Homo sapiens: one gene and its partners. The protein of the gene in region 1 purifies or fractionates together with the protein of each later gene. This does not show direct contact. Each region holds a gene or a part of one and is shown on either strand. Other genes may lie near its edges.

Region 1 (7,023 bases):
ACTCCCCACCTGAGATGGTGGCAGTGGGTCAGTCTCCACAGCACGCTGGGCCCTGGGGGAGAGCAGCACAGGGGGACTCTGGCAGGAAGCAGTGCCCAGTGCACAAAGCCTGGTGGCAGGGTGCACAGCTGGATCTCCAGTCTCTAGGGCATTGAGGAGATAAAACCACGTCTCCGTCTTGAAGGATAAAGAAGTCCACACCAGGGGGAGAGATTTGGACTCAGTAACATAAGGGGGCAAGGTCTGAAATGGGAGTCCAATCACAGAGGCAAGGCAGAAGCCCAGTTGTCCAAAGGCCAAGGTCCAAACTGAACTCAGTGCTGAGCTCATGAGCTGTTCCTCAAACTCCCTCTGACCTCTGACCCTCTGACTCCCTCTGAAGTCCTATGGGTCCTAGAACTATGGGAATCAGACAAATGTGGGGACAGAGAGCCAGGTACTTTTTCAGGCTTATAGACAGCAATATATGCCTGGGCCTTGGGAGAAAGAGAGGTTGACCTACTCCTGGTGAACGTTGGTCCCTGGGGTATTCCCGAGGCCAGCAGGGCACAGCCTTCATCAACATCCCTTAGAGTGGGTGGAGTAGGACATATTATCAACTGAAAGAATGCCAGAAGCAGAAAAACACCATCTATGTAAAAATATCATACAGATAAAACAATGTACTGTATTTTCTATTGGAACTATGTATGCGTGTGTATACACACATTACATATATAATATATAATATATAATATCCATATATGAATATATGTAATATACAGTATATTTGTATATATAATATATATCCATCTGTATATATTATATAGATACAATATGTAACATATTAAAGTATATAATAATTGCATAATTATATCATATAATACATGTTATATATTATATAATTAATATAATATGTAATACATTACATTAATATATGTTATATAATATATAATATATTATAGAATATAATTGATATAATGTATTATATTAATAATATAGTATGTGTTATATAATATATTAATATGTTGTATGTAATAATATATTACATAATATATTATGTTAATCTATTATATAATAGATTAACCTATTATATAATAGATTAACATAATATATTACATAATATGTTAATCTATTATATAATAGATTAACACAATATATATGTAATGTGTATATATTATGTTATATATAAGATTCTATATATATTATGACATATACATATATATTATATATCTAATTACATATAATATATATATAAAAGTTAAAATGACTATTTTGAAGGCTACATCCCTAACTGATCATCACAGTAACCTCTGAGATGCAGGGAAGGGACTGAAATTAGCATAGAAAGGGGAATTCAAGCCTATAGCTTGTCACGTATCTGTTGGCTCACCTGGCTGGTGTAGGGCAGCAGCCAAGCCCACAGCAATGTCAGCTGCATTGCTCCTTCCCTCAGTTTTTCTGGCTCCAGGACCAGGTGTGCACTTACCTCTAACAAATCATCAGCTTTTGCTGCATAACATCCCCATCATTGAGGCTGGAGACTTGGGGACAGTGAGAGAACAATGTGGGTTCCAGTCCACCCTCACCCTCATGGGTTCCAACTGGCCCTTTTTCTCCCACTTGACATCTATCTTCCCTTTCTGCTGTGCAAACTGTAGACTGCTGCTGCAGCATCAGGACAGAAACAGTATCCTAAAGTACACTGTTTAACTAGCACCCACAGTTGCATATAATCAATATCTATATCCACATCATTATAGCTATATCTATAATCTATAGTACCTCCTAATGGTTCTGCTTCTCTTATCAAACCCTGACTGACATAATAAAGATATGACATGTGAAAATTTGTAGATGAAGCTGATGCAGCCCTTAAAGGGACCATTTAGCCTAAAATGCATGCGTTGTTAATAGAAATGCTAATGATCAATTATCTAAGCTCCTATTTCAAGAAATGAATAACAAGAAAATGAGCAAACCGTAAACAAACAATAGCAAATCAAACCCAAAGAAATCAAAAGGAAGGAAATAATAAAGAGTAGAATGGGACACAAATGAAATAGAGAAATCACACAGTACAGAAAATTAACAAAGCCAAGAATGAACTCTTTGCAAAGAGTAATAAAATTGGTTAGCCTCTCACATGACTAAATAAGAAAAAAGAAAGAAAATACAACTTAACAATGTTAGAAATGAGAAAGAGAACATTAGTAAAGTTATCAAGAATAATTTTATATTGATAAATTTTACAATTTTCAGAAAATCAACAAATGCCTTGAGAAATACAGCATACCAAAACTGATGCAAAAACAAAAAATAGAAAATGTGAATCTTTTAAAGATATACTCTGTTATTAAAAAATCTTTCCACAAAGAAAACTCCACGAAGAAAAGCCTCACTGATAAATTCTCTCAACACTAAAAAAAATCAGTCTTTCACAAACTCTTCCAGATATTTGACAAAGTAAAAACACTTTATAACTCATTTTATGAAACCAGCATAACTTTAATAATGAAACTTGAAAAGGACATTATAACAAAAGAAAATATAAAATTACAGACCAATCTCTTCTCTCATGAATATAGATGCAAAAGTTCTAAATGAAATACTAGCAAATAAAATCTTTTGGTATATAAAAAGATCATACCAAGGGTCATCTTTCCAGGAATTTATCATTTAACAGAATAAAAGGAGAAAAATCATATGACCAATATGATTATATTAGTAGGTTAATAACATTCAATATCTATTCATGACTTCAAGAAAAACTCTTAGCAAACTAGGAGTAGAAAGTAACTCCCTTAATCTGATAAAAATGAAGGACTTCATCTAAAAGAAGCCCACAGCAAACTTTATACTTAATGGTGAATTGTCGAGAGACTTCTCCATAAGATCAAGAATGAGACAAGGACACTCAATCTCACCACTTCTATTCAACATTGTACTGAAAATCCTAGCCAGTGCAACAAGGCAAGAAAAAAGAAATAAAGAACATTAAGATGGAAAAGGAAGAAATAACTCTGTCAATATTAATGTATGACAAGATTCCATAAGTAGAAAATCCAAAAATATCTACAGAAAGGATATTGGGATTAATATGTGAACTTAGCGAAGTTGCTGGATATGAGGTCAACATAAAAAAAATCATCTGGGGCCAGGCACAGTGGCTCACGCCTGTAATCCCAGCACTTTGGGAGGCCGAGGCAGGTGGATCATGAGGTCAGGAGTTTGAGACCAGCCTGACCAACATTTCTCTACTAAAAATACAAAAATTAGCCAGGCGTGGTGGCACACGCCTGTAGTCCCAGCTACTCAGGAGGCTGAGGCAGAAGAACTGCTTGAACCCAGGAGGTGGAGGTTGCAGTGAGCCAAGATCATGCCATGGCACTCCAGCCTGAGTGACAGAGTGAGACTCTGTCTCAAAAAAAATCATTTGGATTTATATATACAGGTTATGGATCCTTATCCCAAATGCTTGGGACCGGAAGCCTTTTAGATTTCAAATTTTTTCAGATTTTGAAATATTTGCATTATACTTACCAGTTTAGTATCCCAAATCTGAAAATCCATAATCTGTAATGCTCCAATGAGCATTTTCTTTGAGCCTCATGTTGGCACTCAAAAAGTTTTGGATTTTGAAGCACTTCAGTTTCAGATTTTCAGATTTGTGATGCTCAACCTGTAGCAAGTAAAACAAATGGCAAATAGATTTTTAATGACACTATTTATAATACTATCAAAACCATCAGCTACTTTGATGTAAATTTAACAAAAAATGTGCGAGAACTCTACTCTGATAATAGCAAACATTACTAAATAAAAGTAAAAGACTTGCATAAAAATCACAAACATTAATGAATAAAATTAAAAGAAGACCTGTATTGAAAACTAAACCATGCTCATAGATTGAATGACTCTGTTTCATTAAAAAGTCAAATTTTTTCAAATTGGTCTATACAACCAATTTTATTCCAATCAAAACAACAGCATTTTTTCTTAGACATTAGCAAACTGATTCTAACATTTATATGGATATGTAATACACCAATACAATCTTGCTGAAGAAAAACACTGGTAAATATTAAGATTTATTATAAAGTTACAGTAATGTAGACGTGTGGTGTTGGCACAGAATTTAAAAAATAAACAAATGTAACAGAACAGAAAATACAAAACTATCAACACAGTCATCTGACTTGCGTTGAACAAGATACTGCAGTATGTGGAGGAAATGATGGTATATTTATTAAATAGTGCCAGGTCATATGAATATCCAGATAGAAAAAAATAAATCTTAATTCCTACCTTACACATTATCACATTTCATATAGGTTCCAGATCGCAATGTGAAAAGTAAACAATAAAGCTTTTAGAAGAAAACATGAGAAAATGTTTTCATGACCTTAAGGTAGGCAAAATTTTCTGAAACAAGTTACAAAAAAACAGTGTACAATAAGCACATGATGAGTGACAGAAGCCAGATACCAAAGAGTTCATATGGGATGATTCCATTTATATAAAATCCAAAAAATAGGCAAAACCAATATATGTTATTAGAAGTCAGGAGACTGGCTCTTCTTGAGGAGGGGCGCAATGATTGGCAGGTGCATGAGGGCTTCTGAGGTTTGGAATGTCCTGTTTTTTGGGAATATAGCAAGCATCTTTGTGCTCATTTAGTCAAGGAAAGTTGGGAAGGAGAGGCATTAGCTTCAAGACAGAGGAAAATCCAGGAGTCAAACCCTTTGCCAGCAATCCCCTGTGCCATTCTCCTGTTCTCCTGTGGGCTTTCTCCTACCAGGTGGAAGGACTAACCGTGGTTGGCCAGCAGTTTGGAGAAAGTGTCACAGAGCCAGGCCAGACCTTTGTGGATGCAGAGTTTGATGGAATTCTGGGCCTGGGATACCCCTCCTTGGCTGTGGGAGGAGTGACTCCAGTATTTGACAACATGATGGCTCAGAACCTGGTGGACTTGCCGATGTTTTCTGTCTACATGAGCAGGTAAGGCCCATCAAGTCTGTGAGGTTAAAGTCAGTTATAACTACAGGGAGACAACACATACACTTGACTTAGCAGTCAAAAGACCTGGTTTAGGTAGCTTGGTCCATTACCAGCTGTGTGATCTTAGTCAAAACATTTAACCTCTCTGAATATTGAGGAAATGGGATTTGCTTCATCAAGTAGCTGTAAAAACACTTTGTAAACTCTACCACACTGGCTTAAATTTAAGGAATCTCTGGGATTGGTTCTTCATTGATGCTGTCACTAAATATCAAGCTCCTATTATATGCTGATTATGATGCTCACACTGGGGACCCAGTGAAACAAGAAAGACAGTACCTGCAGGAGGAGGAGGCAGAAAAAAATGAAAAGCTGACAATAAAATAATTGCATGCTGATGGATGAATAAACAAAATGTGGCATATCCAAATAATCAAATATTATTCAGCCTTAAAAAGGAAGAAAATTCTGAGACATGCTACAACATAGAAGAAACTTGAGGACATAATGCTAAGTGAAATAAGCTAGTCACAAAAAGACAAATACTGTATGATTCCACTTAGGTGAGGTACCTAGACTAGTCAAATTCATAGGCAGAAAGTAGACTGCCAGTTGCCAGAGCCTGGGGAGGGGAAGTGAGGAATTCTTAAACCGTTGTTGATGGCCTAATGGGTATAAAGTTCCAGTTCTGTAAAATGAAAGGTCTGGATTTTACAACAGTGTGAACATACTTAACACTACTGAATTGTAGACTCAAAAATGGGTAAGATAGTACATTTTATGTGACATATTTTTACAACAATTTTTAAAATTGCACATTGTTTTTGGAAAAGGTCATGAGGCTCACCTGTTTCTAGGCACTCTTGCCCGGCATCCTTGGAGGGTCATCTCCTCTTCCTCCTTACACAGGAAGGTGATTTCTGACCTTGCTGACTTTTTCCAGCTCAGACCTGGCCTGCGTTCACACTGTTTCAGCATAAGCCCATTCCTCTCATTCCCCTCTCCCACATGGAGGGTCCTGGATTTTCCCTATCAAGCTATGTTTCCTCTCCAGCATGACAGCACTCAGGACCAGGCCTAGGAAGAGCTGTGAGTAAGAGAGGCAAGTTGTCTAGACACCTCTGCTTCCCCTTGCAGAACTTCCTTCTCCCGTCGCCTGGGAAAAGTGGGCTGTAATGGAGAATATCAAGGCTTGGCAGTCAGACTGGCCTGGATTTGAATCCTGCCACTTACATTGCTTCATCTCACTGAGGCTCAGTTTCTTCCACGGACCACTAGGTTGATGTGAGTTAAATAAGTTTAGACAGATAAAATCCCCACTACACGGCCTTGCACCAAGGTAATCAACAAATGTGAGTTCCTTTCCCCACTCCCTCTGTAAAACCACTGTCCTAAAATTCCTACAGGTATTCACTCCTCTCCCTCTTTACCACCCTGATTTCAGTTTTGTATCTTTCTGATCCTTTTCCTCCTCAAAATGAATCTGTCTTAGGTCCTATTTCTCCAGAGTCCTGCTAGGTTCCAGAACATAATCTGAGAAATCAATACCAATGAAAATAAGTTTTCAGGCTCTAGTAAGTCATGATACATTCATATTAGCCTCTTTGCCTTAACATAAGGAGTGAATAACACAAAAACGCCAGGCACTGTCACAACCATAGTGGGGAAGATACTTTGGGAAAAGGTGTCTTTGGGGGTTGCTTCAAGCCACACAGTGTATACCCACCCAGGATGGTCCTGGCCTTGGTTCTGAATGACAGACCTGCTGGCCCCATTTCCCACCTCCTTAACCTTTTTATCCAAGAAGCAGAAACACATTCACAAATGGTCAAGGGGAGTTGTTTCTAACCTTGTGTCAAAAAGGCCCAGACCAATTCACTTGCAGTAGTCAGAGTCCCGGTCTCAAAGCCCAGACTGATGTTTCTGCCTACCTGTGTGCTTGGCATGAGACCAAGAAGCAAAGGGTCCTAGCTGAGGCTCACCCCTAGAGTTTTGCAGTGGCCCTTCCTGGACAGTTTGTCTTTCTCTCCATGTAGTAACCCA
Region 2 (7,023 bases), on another chromosome or scaffold:
TTCTTTGACTCCTGGTGAAATACAGCTCTTAGCATTACTATCTTTGAGTCACTGAAATGTTCTTAATATTCAAGAAAAGTTCTATTTCCTGAAGTTTCCAAGATCACCAGGCTACATTTATGTCATATTGCTTTAATCTTTTATAAAGTTTGTTATCTACTTTTATATTGACTTCAATTTTTCCCTCTTAATGCTTTCTATAAATAATGTCTTGCATATAATGCCATGCTTTGTATTTTTGAAAGGTTCGATATGTATAAGTAATTGAGATATAATTCACGTACAATGAAATTCGTTTGTTTAAATTATATAGTTCACTGGTTTTTAGTATATGCGCAAAATTGTGCAACCATCAGCACAGTCTAATTGCAGAACATTTACATCACCCCAGAAAACTCCTCACCTATTAGCAGTTATTCCTATACTCCTCTCCCCGCAGCTCCTGGCAACCACTAAACTTTTTCTCTATATGGATTTGCGTATTCTGGACATTTCAGTTTACTCCTTAAAAAATGTATTGAGTGATTTGATACAAACTTAATAAAGAATCTCACTTTAAATAGAAAACTGTCTGCTTACATCTAGTAGCTTCTCCCATAGACAGCTTTTAATGACAGTTTGTCAAAGAATTGGTATTTGGAAGTGGAGATGGATTAATGGGTAGGAGAGGGGAAGATGGTAGAAGCGGGGGGGCGGGAAAGGGTAAAGAGGTGACAAAGTTGAGGCAAGCAAATAACTTGATTTGAGACTTAGCTCCTCTTTAGATCTACCTTACTCTATGAATGAATAAATTGATAATAAATATGATTTATTTTCTCTCCATTCAGTCTGTGGCTCCAGCAGCCTTGTTTCTAGCAGCTAAAGTGGAGGAGCAGCCCAAAAAATTGGAACATGTCATCAAGGTAGCACATACTTGTCTCCATCCTCAGGAATCCCTTCCTGATACTAGAAGTGAGGTAGGAGATTAATTACACATCTGTTTTTCTTAATTTTTTTCCTTTCTTTTTTTTTCCCTACTCCCAAGCATGCCTGGATCTTTATGTATTTCAATGCAACTTAATTTTATAACTTCGATTTATTGAAGTTTAGATTGGTGTTGTTAAAAGAATATTTTAGTGTTTGTGTTTTTCTTAACAGTAAGAAAATCAGGCCAGGTATGGTGGCTCACCATACCTGTAATCCTAGCACTTTGGGAGGGTAAGGTGGGAGAATCACTTTAGGCCAGAAGTTTAAGACCAACCTGGACAACATAGCAAGACCCTGTCTCTATATTTAAAAAAAAGAAAAAAAAAAGCCAGATGTGGTGGCTCATGCCTGTAATCCCAGCACTTTGGGAGGCTGAGGCAGGAGAATTGCTTGAGTCCAGTTCGAGACAAGCTCTGGCAACAAAGTGAGACCCCATTTCTACAAAAAAAGAAAAACAACAACAACAACAACAACAAAAAACAACTGGGCATGCTGGCTCACATCTTTAGTCCCAGCTACTTGGGAGACTGAGGTGGGAGGGTTGCTTGAGCATGGGATGTTGAGGCTGCAGTGAGCCATGATCACACCACTGCAGGCAACAGTGCCAGGACTCTGTCTGAAAAACAAAACACATAAATTTTATGGCGAAAGTTTTGTATTTGTTGCAGTAAAATTTGAAAATACAGAAAAATTCAAGAATAAAATATCTCTCAGATATATTCTAGACCAATGGTCCCAGACCTTTTTTGGCACCTGGGACTGGTTTCATGGGAGACAGTTTTTACATGGACAGGGGGTGGGGTTGGAGATGGTTTTGGGATGATTCAAGCACATTACATTTATTGTTCACTTTATTTCTATTATTGTTACATTGTTATACATAATGAAATAATTACGTAACTCACCATAACGTAGAATCAGTGGGAGCCCTGAGCATCTCTTTTTTTTTGAGACGGAATCTTGCTCTTGTCGCCAGGCTGGAGTGCAGTGGCGCAATCTCGGCTCACTGCAACCTCCACCTGCCGGTTTCAAGCGATTCTCCTGCCTCAGCCTCCTAAGTAGCTGGGACTACAGGTGTGCACCACCACACACAGCTAATTTTTGTATTTTTAGCAGAGACAGGGTTTCACCATGTTAGCCAGAATGGTCTCGATCTCTTGACCTTGTGATCTGCCCGCCTTGGCCTCCCACAGTGGTGGGATTACAGGCATGAGCCACTGTGCCCGGCCACCTTGAGGTGCTTTTCCTGCAACTAGATGGTCCCATCTGGGGGTGATGGGAGACAGTGACAGATCATCAGGCATTAGATTCTCATAAAGAGCAGCAAATTAGATCCCTTGCATGGGCAGTTCACCACAGGGTTCAAGTGCTCCTATAAGAATCTAATGCCACTGCTGATCAGACAAGAGGCAGTGCTCAGGTGGCAATATGTATGGTGGGGAGAGGCTATAAATACAGATGAAGCTTCACTCACTCGTACCTGCTGCTCAACTCCTGCTGTGTGGCCTAGTTCATAACAGGCCATGGACCCCCTGTTATATAGACAACTGAAGCACAGGTATACTAATGAACCACTGTTATTTGTGGCTTCTTTTCTATAGATAGCTATGTGTGCATGTATTTTGTCTCTGGTTTGTTTTCATTTGCTTACTATATCCCAAATATTTTCCCATCTGATGGATTCTCTACTTTTTAAAAATGTCTGGCTAGTATTTAATGATATATATGTGAATGTATGTATTTTTAACAATTCTCCATGAAGAAGTCTAGATAATTTCTAGCTTTTAAAATCACTATAAATGTTATGAAAAATATTCTTTTTTTTTTTTTTGGAGACAGGGTCTCATTCTGTTGCCCTGGCTGGAGTCCAGTAGTGTGATCATGGCTCACCGCGGCCTTGACCTTCCGGGCTCAGTGATCCCCCTGACCTCAGCATCCCGAGTAGCTGGGACTATAGGTGTGCGCCACCATGCCCAGCTAGTTTTTGTAGAGATGGGGTTTCACCATGTTGCCCAGGCTGCTCTCGACCTCCTGAGCTCAAGTAATTCGCCCACCTTGGCCTCCCAAGTGCTGGGATTACAGGCGTGAGCCACTGCACCTGGCTGAAAAATATTATTATACATTTTTATTATGGATCCTTAAATGAGTAGTTTCACTATTTTTTTTTTTTTTAACTTTTTTTTCGAGTTGGAGTTTTGCTCTTGTTGCCCAGGATTGAGTGCAATGGTGCAATCTCAGCCAACCGCAACCTCCCCCTCCTGGGTTCAAGCGATTTGCCTGCCTCAGCCTCCCGAGTAGCTGGGATTACAGGCATGTGCCACTACACCCGGCTAATTTTGTATTTTTAGTTGAAACGGGGTTTCTCCATGTTGGTCAGGCTGGTCTCGAACTCCTGACCTGAGGTTATCCACCTGCCTCAGCCTCCCAAAGTGCTGGGATTATAGGCGTGAGCCACCATGTCCAGCCAGCTTTGTTTTTTTTGAGACAGAATCTCGTTTTGTTGCCCAGGATAGAGTGCAGTGGCAAGATTGTAGCCAGGATGGTCTCGATCTCTTGACCTTGTGATCCGCCCGCCTTGGCCTCCCAAAGTGCTGGGATTACAGGTGTGAGCCACTGCACCCGGCCACCCTGAGCTTCTTTTCCTGCAACTAGATGGTCCCATCTACGGGTGATGGGAGACAGTGACAGATCATCAGGCATTAGATTCTCATAAAGAGCAGGTGATCATTTCACCTCAGCCTCCCAAGTTGCTAGGACTATAGCTGCGTGCCACCACTCCCAGTTAATTTTTATTTTTTTGTAGAGATAGGGGTCTTACCATGTTACCCAGGCTGGTCTTGAACTCTTGGCCTTCAAAGAATCCTCCCATACTGGCCTCCCAAAGTGTTAGAATTCCAGGTGTGAGCAACCATGCCTAGCTACATTTTTTTTTTCTTTTTTTGAGATGGAGTCTCGCTCTGTCACCCAGGCCGGAGTGCCGTGGTGCGATCTCAGCTCACTGCAACCTCCACCTCCCAGGTTCAAGAAATTCTCTGCCTCAGCCTCCTGAATAGCTGGGATTACTACCTGCATTCACTCTATGGAACAAGCCAAGGTTCACGCCCACCATCACACCCAGCTAATTTTTTAGTATTTTTAATAGAGACAGGGTTTCACCATATTGGCCAGGCTGATCTTGAACTCCTGACCTCGTGATACACCTGCTTTGGCCTCCCTAAGTGCTGGGATTACTGGCGTGAGCCACCGCACCCGGCCCATTCTTTATTTTTTAACTGTCTAAAAAATCCAGTGTATTTTATGGTTATAGCACGTTTCAATTTAGCTACATTTCAAGTGATGAATGGCTACATGTGGCTAGTGGCTATAGCTTTGGCTGGCACAAATCTGAGTGAATTTTCTTATTACCTTTTCCTTTGAACTCTTCTGTTACTTTTTAGAAACCTAACATGGCCCCAAAGGGGAAGTTCTAATAGGAGCCAAATGTTTGGTATTAAATGCTTACAGTACTGTAGGAAGGTTCTGCAAATGTATTTTGGTGATGTTGAAAAATATATACTTTATGGCCAGGCGCGGTGGCTCATGCCTGTAATCCTAGCAATTTGGGAGGCTGAGGCGGGTGGATCACCTGAGGTCAGGGGTTCAAGACCAGCTTTGCCAATATGGTGAAACCCCGTCTCTACTAAATATACAAAAACTAGCCGGGCGTGGTGGTGGGCTCCTGTAATCCCACCTACTCGGGAGGCTGAGGCAGGAGAATCGCTTGAACCTGGGAGGCAGAGGTTGCAGTGAGGCGAGGTCGCGCCACTGCACTCCAGCCTGAGCAGCAGAGCGAGACTCCCTCTCAAAAAAAAAGGCCGGGTGCGGTGGCTCACGCCTGTAATCCCAGCACTTTGGGAGGCCGAGGTGGGCGGATCATCTGAGGTTGGGGGTTTGAGACCAGCCTGACCAACATGGAGAAACCTCGTCTCTACTAAAAATACAAAATTAGCTGGGTGTGGTGGTGCATGCCTGTAATCCCAGCTACTCGGGAGGCTGAGGCAGGAGAATTGTTTGAACCGGGAGGCAGAGGTTGTGGTGAGCCGAGATTGTGCCATTGCACTCCAGCCTGGGCAACAAGAGCGAAACTCCAACTCAAAAAAAAAAGAAAAAAGAAAAGCAAAAAATACATACTTTTAATTTTCTTTTCTCTAAATCACATGAACCATAAAACTTAAATATTAACCTGAAAATGAACCAAATATATGGTGCTTTTTCTGTAGCCATATATAAACTGTTACCTCTCAGCATACTACTTATTTATTTATTTTTTAAAGAAAATGTGTACTGAATGGGCATAAGGGATAAAGATTGTATTTCACAAAAAAATTAGCCGGGCGTGGTGTTGCGCGCCTGGAATCTTAGCTACTTGGGAGGCTGAGGCAGGGGAATTGCTTGAACCAGGGAGGTGGAGGTTGCAGTGAGTCGAGATCACACCACTGCACTCCAGCCTGGGTGACAGAGGGAGACTCTGTCTAAAAAAAAAAAAAAAAAAAAAAAAAAAGATTGTATTTCAGTTCTTAACTCTACCTCCTAACTCCACTCATGCCTTTTATTGTTTTGGTTTCCCTGGAAGGGATTGTTAGAATTGTTTATACTTTATATATTGTGCCTTTGTAGGGAATAATTTCTGTCTTCTCACTTTTAGGCTTATTTGCAACAAGTTCAAGATCTGGTCATTTTAGAAAGCATAATTTTGCAGACTTTAGGTAAGTTTATTTTCCTTTGAAACATTTTTTTAAATTATGCAATAAAATGATTTGATTCTAAAAATTTGCTATATAGGAAGAATATTTCTTGGGAAAGTTTTTGTAGTGTCCCTCTGTTTCCAGATGATAGAGGTTGTAGACCTGAGTTTAGCTTTGACCTGTTCCATAGAGTGAATGCAGGTAGTACAGCTGACCTTTGAAACAGCAGCCAGTGGGTTATTATTTTTTTCATTCTAGGGTTATTTGCTTTTTAAGTTTTGGTGATTTTTACCCCCAAAAATTATAAAAACTATCTAAAGAATGTTTTTCCTTCCGTGGATTGTTATGGCCTGTAACAGCATTTGTTTTTAAAATTGGTAACTAGTGTTTAGAACAGCAGAGTGAAAGTGGGGGAACTTAAGCTTTAGTGGTTGCATGGGCAACTCTGATGATATTGTGTTATTATCTGTTATTTTCATCACACAGGCTGCCTTTAGAAGTTTAGAAAATATGAAAATACAGATTTTTTTTTTCCTGGTTCTTTTGGGCTATCATTTTTCTCTTCTAGGTAGGGTAAGATTTCATGAGTTGTACGTCAAAGTTATTGGCGTAGACACAATTTTTTTTGTACATATATATATATGATGAGTTCTTCAAAGTTTATCTCTCAATTTATTCTAGTTAACTTTTTTCTTTTTCTTTTTTTTTTTTTTTTGAGACGGAGTCTTGCTTTGTCGCCCAGGCTGGAGTGCAGTGGCACAATCTTGGCTCATTGCAACCTCCGCCTCCTGGGTGCACGCCATTCTCCTGCCTCAGCCTCCAGAGTAGCTGGGACTACAGGCGCCCGCCACCACGCCCAGCTAAATTTTTGTATTTTTAGTAGAGATAGGGTTTCACCGTGTTAGCCAGGATGGTCTTGATCTCCTGACCTTGTGATCCGCTCGCCTCGGCCTCCCAAAGTGCTGGGATTACAGGCTTGATCCACCGCGCCCAGCCTCTAGTTAACTTTTTTCTTAAAATATCTTCAAATTATATTTCATGGGACAATGATGTTTTTCTGGTGGAATAAATTTCTATTAATATTTTAGTGTGGAAACCAGTAAGGTGTAATTTACAATCAGTTATCCTTTTACAATAATTTGTAAAATGTAAACTTCTTAATAGTTTTTTAATCCATTACTTTTTCTTTTAAGGCTTTGAACTAACAATTGATCACCCACATACTCATGTAGTAAAGTGCACTCAACTTGTTCGAGGTAAGGAATCCCAGCTTATGAAGACTATCTCAAGCTGTTTTCCCATTTAGAGGTTGTGGTTTGTGGTGGACAATACA
Region 3 (7,926 bases), on another chromosome or scaffold:
TGACATATAGTTGCTCAATAAATGGTAATTATTACTTTTCAAATAGAGCTGACTGAACAACAAAAATCACTAAATAGTCATAAAGGACACTCTACGGTCAATTTTGATCCTAATGACTAAACTACATAGAGGTCAAAACAGCTAATAAATCTAAAACAATCCACTTTTGCTTTTTAAATACTTACACTTATTTTTGCAGCAAACTAACTAAATCCAGGTGAAGGCTATGCATAATGGAAACAAAAGTTTGGCTATGTTCAAACCAATCTTTTAAAAGTAAGTTATTTCCCAATACATTAATAATTTAAGAACATGTTACAGTCCCCACAACAATTAACAGAATGTACCCTGAGGTCCACCTCTATCTTGCTGTTATATACCCAGTGTCAATACAGTGTCTGGCACATACTAGGTACCTAGAAAATATTTATTTGCGGTCTACATACACTCACTTAATATTACTCCAGAGTAGTGATCCAATACTAGAAAAACAACCCAAAGTAATAAAGGAGCATATTTGAAAAGTAGTTTTAATAGACAATTCATCAGAAATTTCTTAGTCTCTAAAAAGGCCTTATTAAACCACTAGCATGAGACCACTGTGTAAAGATAAGTCAAAATCAGAGCATTACTTGAAGAAAAGTTCATCAGTTGGTAGATAAGGAGGAATATCAGACAAAATGAAAGTCACCAGTGACAACTTTCAAAGAGCTAATAAGAGGGGCTACAACTCTACAAATAAAAACAAAGATATATATTCATAATAAATTGAATGAGGAAAGATTTAAAATAACCAAGGGATCCTAAATATTTTCCAAGTCTGTTCACTCTTATCATCCACCTAAGAATAGGATTTGCTCTAGTTGATCAGATTCAGTTTACTTTTACTGATTTTTTATTCTTTTCCGCCCCCCCCCCCCCAATTATGTCACCCAGGCTGGAGGGCAATGGCGCAATCTTGGCTCACTGCAACCTCCACTTCGTGGGCTCAAGCCATCCTCCCATCTCAGCCTCCCGAGTAGCTGGGACTACAGGTACATACCACCCCACCCGGCTTTCTTTTTTTTTTTTGAGACTGAGTCCCGCTCTATTGCCCAGGCTGGAGTGCACTGGTGCCATCTTGGCTCACTGCAATCTCCACTTCCCCGGTTGAAGCAATTCTCCTGCCTCAGCCTCTGAGTAGCTGGGATTACAGGCGCCTGCCACCATGCCCGGCTAATTTTTGTATTTTTAGTAGATATGGGGTTTTGCCAGGTTGTCCAGGCTGGTCTCGAACTCCTTACCTCAAGTGATCCGCCCACCTCGGCCTCCCACAGTGCTGGGATTACAGGCGTGAGCCACCGTGCCCAGCCTTTTACCGGTTTTCGATTGTGTGCTATGCACCGTAGAAAGCATATGAAAAATAGAGGAGCTTCGAACTGATGCAGAAGGAAGTCACGTGCACTTAGCTACTACATAATACATATCTGGAACCAATACAAGAACCTGATCCAATGTCCACTCTAGTCCTCTTTTCCTCTGTGCACCTTCTACGAGTTTGGTTATAGACTTAAGCACCCTTCCATTTTCAAAATTTAAGTACCCACAACTTGAATTCTCAAGTTATTTTATCTTTCTTCTCTTAAAAAAAAATGTTAAGGGGTTAGTTTTCAGAATCTTCAATTTTACTAGATACGGTATGCACAATGTTAAAGACAAGCTCCAATAAAAATTTATGTATACCTTTAAAAGGTTTGTGAAACATTTAAAAAATTTTTAAAAACACAAATTCTTCTTGGAACAATGAAGATAACGAACATCTGTGGTTCCCTAAATGAGCCGTAATTTTAAGATGGGCAGCAACTAAAGGGCTTCAGCTTTGCCAAAACGTCAAGAGGCTGCCTTGCAGTGGGCTCGCAGTGATTTTAAAATGTTATTCTTCTCGTCTCGATTTATGTTTTTCTCCCTCTCAAAGTTAAACTTAAATGTCGTTGGAAACGTAATTTGGTAACATTCTGATGTCATTTCCTTCCGTTTTTAAATTTGTAACGAAATAAAAATATTTGTTCGTTCTCAAAATGAAGGTCTTCCACACACAAAAATTAAGCATGGAGTGCAATAAGGTCAATCGAATAAAGCTGCATCCGACCTTTTAAAATATGGAATAACATTTTTCCCTTCTCCAGAACTCTTGACTACTGACACAGGACAATGCCTGAAGTATGAAGCACAGACACGGAAACACCGGATGCGAAAGACTGGAGACCGAGACAGCAAAGGGAGGTGGAGCGGAGTGCTGATCTCGGTTCCTCCAAAACTCGTACTGTGAATCTGTGACACGGGACAATGAAATGTGAGCAAGGACAAGCTTACACAGCATCATAATGTTAATTTGAAGACGGTTTTCCGGTTGATGAGGCAACGAAAGGCTGAAAGACTCCAAAGTTAAAGGAGCCCCAATTTTGCCCGAGAAAACGTAGAGCTAGGAGGGCGGTGACCAGTTTTCCCAGACTTATCTCTACGCACTCCAAGATGCTGAAAGTGGGACCCCTGCTCCTGTAGGTACAGGAGGCCTCTGCACCCCGCTTGGCCCAAGCTAACCCTGCCCTCCCAGACCAGGCCTGGCCAGACCCTCCCGCCCCGGGCCGGGTCTCCGCCGGGCCGGCTCCCAGCCCCAGTCAGGCCAGCAGAGCCTTCGTCTCCTCCTGCCTCAGCCGGGTCAGAGCAGGGCCCCTGAAGACTGGCGATCCCGCGCCCGACTACCTTGGTCGTCCGGATATGCTCCATCGCAAGGAGACGTCAGCCGGCAGCCGGTCTCACAGGCGTACCATACGGCTACAGAAACAGGGCGGTGACAGCGACAGAGAGCAAGCGGGAACTCCCTCCACCAGCCAGCGCCGCGGGTCTGTCTGCCGGCCCCGGTGGCGTCAACGGCGCAGGTGCAGCCGGTGAGCGCCGTCTCCTAGAAACACTTCCCCAAACCCCGCGGCCTCCCGGGGGACTCGGGGCAGGCAGACAGAGCGTGTGTGGACCGAGAGCGGCTTGCTGGTTCGTCCCGGACAGCGGCGGATCCCACAGCGCCCCCTGCTGGAGGAGGCCGGTACTGCTCACCACCCCACCCGAGGCGGTCTTTGTCATCCCGCCGAGCGGACGCGCGGGGCGGTCGGGGAGGAAGACTGCGTGAGAATGGATCCCGAGTAAAGGGTTCTTGTGGGGTGAGGGCAAGAGTGGAGGATGTTCTGAAGTCCATCGCCATACCACTGGACAGCACCAAATTTAGTTTGAGCTGCAGTTCTACTCATAAGAATGTATTCTAAGGAAATAATCAGATTTGGAGTTATTATTCTAAGGAAATAACCAAATAAGGAAACCAGCCTTATTTGAAACAATCAACTCTCCAATCCTACGGATTCCTTATGTAAAGTATGATGATTAGCTAGTCCTCAATCTGGTCTGGTGTCAGAGTCCCGCCTCCTACCTCAATTTCATACGATGTTAGCACCAGCATCCATTAAAACTCATCCTGTAGAGGGATATCACATAACGAAAATGTTAATGCTGCATTACTGAGTGAAGAAAAAACTGACTATGGAACAATAAGTTCAATGTAGCCGTGCTCTGTAATTTTTATTTATGTAAACAAAAAGTTTACATTTCTAGGTGAGGGTTACAGGTAATTTTTGTTAGAACACGTCTAATGTGGTACTTCTCAGCCTGGAGTGAGTTTTCTCCCCGGGGGACATTTGGTAACATCTGGAGATATTTTTGGTTGTCTCAAATGGTGGTGGTGGGGGGGTGGCGGCGGGGGGCAACTGGTGGGTGGAGGCCAAGTCACAAGTCGGCTGCTGAACACCCTACTAGGCACCAGACCAACCCCCCAACTACAGGGAATTATCCGGCAGATGACAACAGTGCAGAGGTTGAGAAACCCTGCTCTATGCCAGGCGCGGTGGTTCACGCCTGTAATCCCAGAACTTTGGGAGGCTGAGGCGGGCGGATCACTTGAGGTCAGGAGTTAGAGTCCGAGAAACTCTGCTCTACGTTTTGTAAGTATTCTGTACTAAGCCGGTTAAGGTTTGTAATCTTCATCTTTCATACTGTGATTGGTGTTAGAAAAGCCTAACATCTAAATTTTCTTTTATAATTAAAAATTTTGTTTCACTTATTTGTTTCATTTTGTTCAAGTTGTCTTGGTTTGTTTTGTTTTGAGTGCCTACGATGTTTCAGACAGATTGCCAAAGCAATGGAGATGGTTATTAAACACAACAGCCTTTGCGGTGGAGTTGCTGACTCCTCTAAGCTAAATATGTAATAAGAGTTACATTAAACCACCTAGAAACCAACCTTAGTACAGTATCACATCCACCCCCTCCCCCCGAAAAAAAACCCCACAAATCCTGCTCAGAAAAAAAAAAAAATATATATATATATATATATACACATATATATATATATATATATACATATATATATATATACACATATATATATATATAGAGAGAGAGAAAAGTAATGTAGGTCTTTACTGAGGATTGCTTTTTGAGAAAACAGAAAGAGGTGAATTGTATAGCATACAGCAAGACTTTCTTAACAAAACTTTTTATATCATTTTCCTCCCAATTTACAACTTCCTCCTTCCCCATTCCCCTACAGATTATCCTCCCTCTTCTCATCTCCTCACTTCCTGTGTCCTCTCTTTACCAATTCTCACAGAGAGGCAATCATAATGATGTCAGGTGACCAAATGTACTGAGTGCTTTACGGGTATTCTGAGGAAAATGCTATTGCTTTCTTTATTTTAGAGATGAGACAAGCGAGACACAATGAAGTGAAGTAACTTGCCCAATATCACATAGCAGATAAAGCCAAGATCCATGTTATAAAGCCAGACAGGCTGACTTCAGAGTCTGTATTCTTAACAACTGTTTTACATTGATTTGCTTCTCAAAATCCATATTAAAGTTCTATTTATGTTAATATGATAGGCTAGAAAATTACCTAGCTTTACAGAAAGAAAGTAAAATAACAGATAAAATATTAAATGACGTTTCTTTGACTCTTGAGTTGAATACTCTTGCACTAGATAGAATATTCCTTATGGTTAAATCTGGCAATCACTCAGTTCCATTATCTTTCCTCGAGACATCTCTTTAGAGGTCTCCAGATGCTTCTAGGAGCCTTTTCTCCTTTTGCTCCAGTTTGCACTTGTGTTCTCTGAGCCTACTGAATGGATATTATCCTGGGACTCTCCTCACCATGGGCCTGAGAAATGTGTTGGTTACTTGTGCTGAATTTTTAGATCCTGTGGTTTATCTTTCTTGATTTACTTACTTGCATTGTTTTATTCTGATGTAGTATATTCTGTATTAACTTCCTGAGAAAGGGTGAATGGAGCATAAATCCTTGACGGGAAGTTTGGCTAGGTCTAGAATTCTGTAATTTTAATTAGGATTTTGAAAGCTCCCAGAGACATATCCTGACTTTCAATGCAGTTGTTCAGAAATCCGCTGGCATTCCGATTTCCCTTTAGGTGTCGCTTCTACTTTCTCAGGATGCTTTTTGGATCTCTTTATCTCCAATGGTCTAAAATTTCAACATAATAAAACTTAGCTTTCTTGTTTATTTTTCTGCCCAGTGTTTTGAGCTCTGTAATCTGAAAACATAAGTCCTTCAATTCTGGGACATTTTCTTGTATTATTTCTGTAATAATTACTGTTTCGTTCTTTTTCCTTCTTCCTTTTTCTTTTTTCCCTTTAAAAATTTTTTTTATTCTTCTCACCTCTCTTCTCTCCCTCATCTTTCTTCTTTCCTATTTCCCTCCTGTCCTTTCTCCTTTCTTTTTATTTTGTTTTATTTTTATTTATTTATTTTTGAGACAGGGTCTCACTGTGTCACTGAGGTTGGAGTGCAGTGGCACAATCTCAGCTCACTACAGCCTCAACCCCTCAGGTTCAAGCAATCTTCCCACCTCAACCTCCTGAGTAACTGGGACTACAGGCGTGCACCACCAAGCCTGACTAATTTTTGTATTTTTTGTAGAGACGGGTTTTTTCCATGTTGCCCATGCTGGTCTCAAACTCTCGGGCTCAAGTGATCTGCCTGCCTCAGCCTCCCAAAGTGCTGGAATTACAGATGTGAGCCACTGTGCCCAGCCCCTTTCTTTTTTCAGTAGAAATTCCTGGTCTGACTTCCTAATTTTACTATTCTTTCACTCCTATTTTTTAAGAATTTACCTTTCTAATCTACTCTCTAGGAAATTCTTAATACTTCATTGTTTCTAATATTTTTAGAATACTCCATTATTTCTAATATTTTTAATTGCTGCAATTATATATATGTACATGTGTGTATGTATGTGTATGTATATATATATACACACATATACATGCACATACATATATAATTGTAGACAAACCTTGTGCTCAGATCTTGGATTCTTCTTTTTCTTCCTTTTTTGTCTACTGAGCACAAGGTTTGCCTCCCAAAGTGCTGGGATTACAGGCATGAGCCACTGTGCCTGGCTTATATTTTTAATTTCTAAGTGTTTTCACTTTAAATAGACTTTATTTTTATTTATTTATTTATTTTTTAGAGATGAGGTCTCGCTATATTGCCCAGGCTGGAGTGCAGTGGCTGTTCATAGGTGTGATCATAGTGCACTACAGCCTCAAACTCCTGGGCTCAAGCAACCTTCCTGTCTCAGCCTTCTGAGTAGCTGGGAATACAGGTATGCTATACCACAAGATGCTCCAGGCTCATCTTGCATCTTTCCCACCCCAGCCCTAGAATCATCCATTTCCCCAAGGAGCCCTGGTTCCTTTTATTGGAAAATGTTATTAGAATCCAAGATCTGTTCTGAACCCAAGATGACCTAACTGGAAAAAAAAAGAATCCAAAATCTGAGCACAAGGTTTGTCTACTAGAATGTTATTGTTTCTAAGTGAAGAGATCTTTTTGGTTACATACATTTTCCTATTTTTCTTTGTTTTTCAGTTTGTTCATTTATTTGTTTTCTAGCCTCCTGCTCTGATACATGTAAGAGCTCATCTCTCCTAGGTGAATAATAGTTTTCATTTATTTATGTATTTCTTGTAATTTTTGCTTCCTGAACCCTATTCCTTTTAGGTTCTCTCTACGTTTGCTGTTTTGGTCTCTGACTTTGATGTCAGAAGCGATCCTCCAATATCTAATCATCTTTAATGGTCCTTTCCAGCAATAAAATGCTGATTGGAAACTTACTCTTTATAGGAGAATTTGCCTATTGTTAAGCTTCATTATTGAATGATGGGGTAGGGGCTTGGTACTTTTGTTGGGGGTCCCTACATCATTATTTGAAGACCCTGTGCATGTGAAAGGCACAGGGAGCTCTGGGAACAGATGTCCTGTTAGCAGCAGTAGCTGAGTAGAAGCCCCAGTCAGGTACCATATATAGGATCCAGATGATCCAGGCCATCTGCCTCTCTGTTGCCAGCTCTCCCCTTGGTGATTACTGCAAGGAACAAAGAGACCCATTTCCCCTCAATACAAGGGGTGGGAAATGAAGAGACATTGGAAAGAGAAGAGGTTCATTCACTAATATTTGTTTTATTGTTAGTAATATTTATAAAGCACACGATCCAGTTTCAGAGGATTCAATATGCACCTGTGTTCCTACATTCCTATCCTTCCCTTTAAAAATGTTGACATACAATAAAATTCATCAGATTAAGCATTTTCTGCTGCCTGATCTCATCAATTATGCCAAGAGCACACTTAATACTGTTACAATTCAATTGAGTAGTCCACTGCAACTTACAAACTAATCTGAAGGAAGATAATCAGGAAGAGACTTGTTTTTAGGGTTAGTTAGACTGGTGAATATCAAAATACCAGTGTAATCATTGACCACAAGAAAGCAGATGGGAATGAAAGTCAGCATGTTCTCTTCCTATAAAGCGTGGGGGGAGG

What was found. The genes of interacting proteins can lie anywhere in the genome.
Region 2: the proteins of CTSE (region 1) and CCNT1 purify together in Homo sapiens (affinity purification with mass spectrometry; 2 studies listed by BioGRID and IntAct, with this or other methods). This does not show direct contact.
Region 3: the proteins of CTSE (region 1) and MTMR6 purify together in Homo sapiens (affinity purification with mass spectrometry; 2 studies listed by BioGRID and IntAct, with this or other methods). This does not show direct contact.

The regions. Positions count from the first base shown.
Region 1 is NC_000001.11:206,013,888-206,020,910, reverse strand, and holds part of CTSE (cathepsin E isoform a preproprotein), read left to right. Parts: intron 1-4,765; coding exon of another isoform or gene 4,766-4,780; coding exon 4,781-4,980; intron 4,981-7,016; coding exon 7,017-7,023. UniProt on the Homo sapiens protein: May have a role in immune function. Probably involved in the processing of antigenic peptides during MHC class II-mediated antigen presentation.
Region 2 is NC_000012.12:48,699,701-48,706,723, reverse strand, and holds part of CCNT1 (cyclin-T1), read left to right. Parts: intron 1-827; coding exon 828-956; intron 957-5,650; coding exon 5,651-5,711; intron 5,712-6,883; coding exon 6,884-6,946; intron 6,947-7,023. UniProt on the Homo sapiens protein: Regulatory subunit of the cyclin-dependent kinase pair (CDK9/cyclin-T1) complex, also called positive transcription elongation factor B (P-TEFb), which facilitates the transition from abortive to productive elongation by phosphorylating the CTD (C-terminal domain) of the large subunit of RNA polymerase II (RNA Pol II).
Region 3 is NC_000013.11:25,284,482-25,292,407, forward strand, and holds the start of MTMR6 (phosphatidylinositol-3,5-bisphosphate 3-phosphatase MTMR6), read right to left. Parts: upstream 3,008-7,926; 5' UTR 2,767-3,007; coding exon 2,743-2,766; intron 1-2,742. UniProt on the Homo sapiens protein: Lipid phosphatase that specifically dephosphorylates the D-3 position of phosphatidylinositol 3-phosphate and phosphatidylinositol 3,5-bisphosphate, generating phosphatidylinositol and phosphatidylinositol 5-phosphate.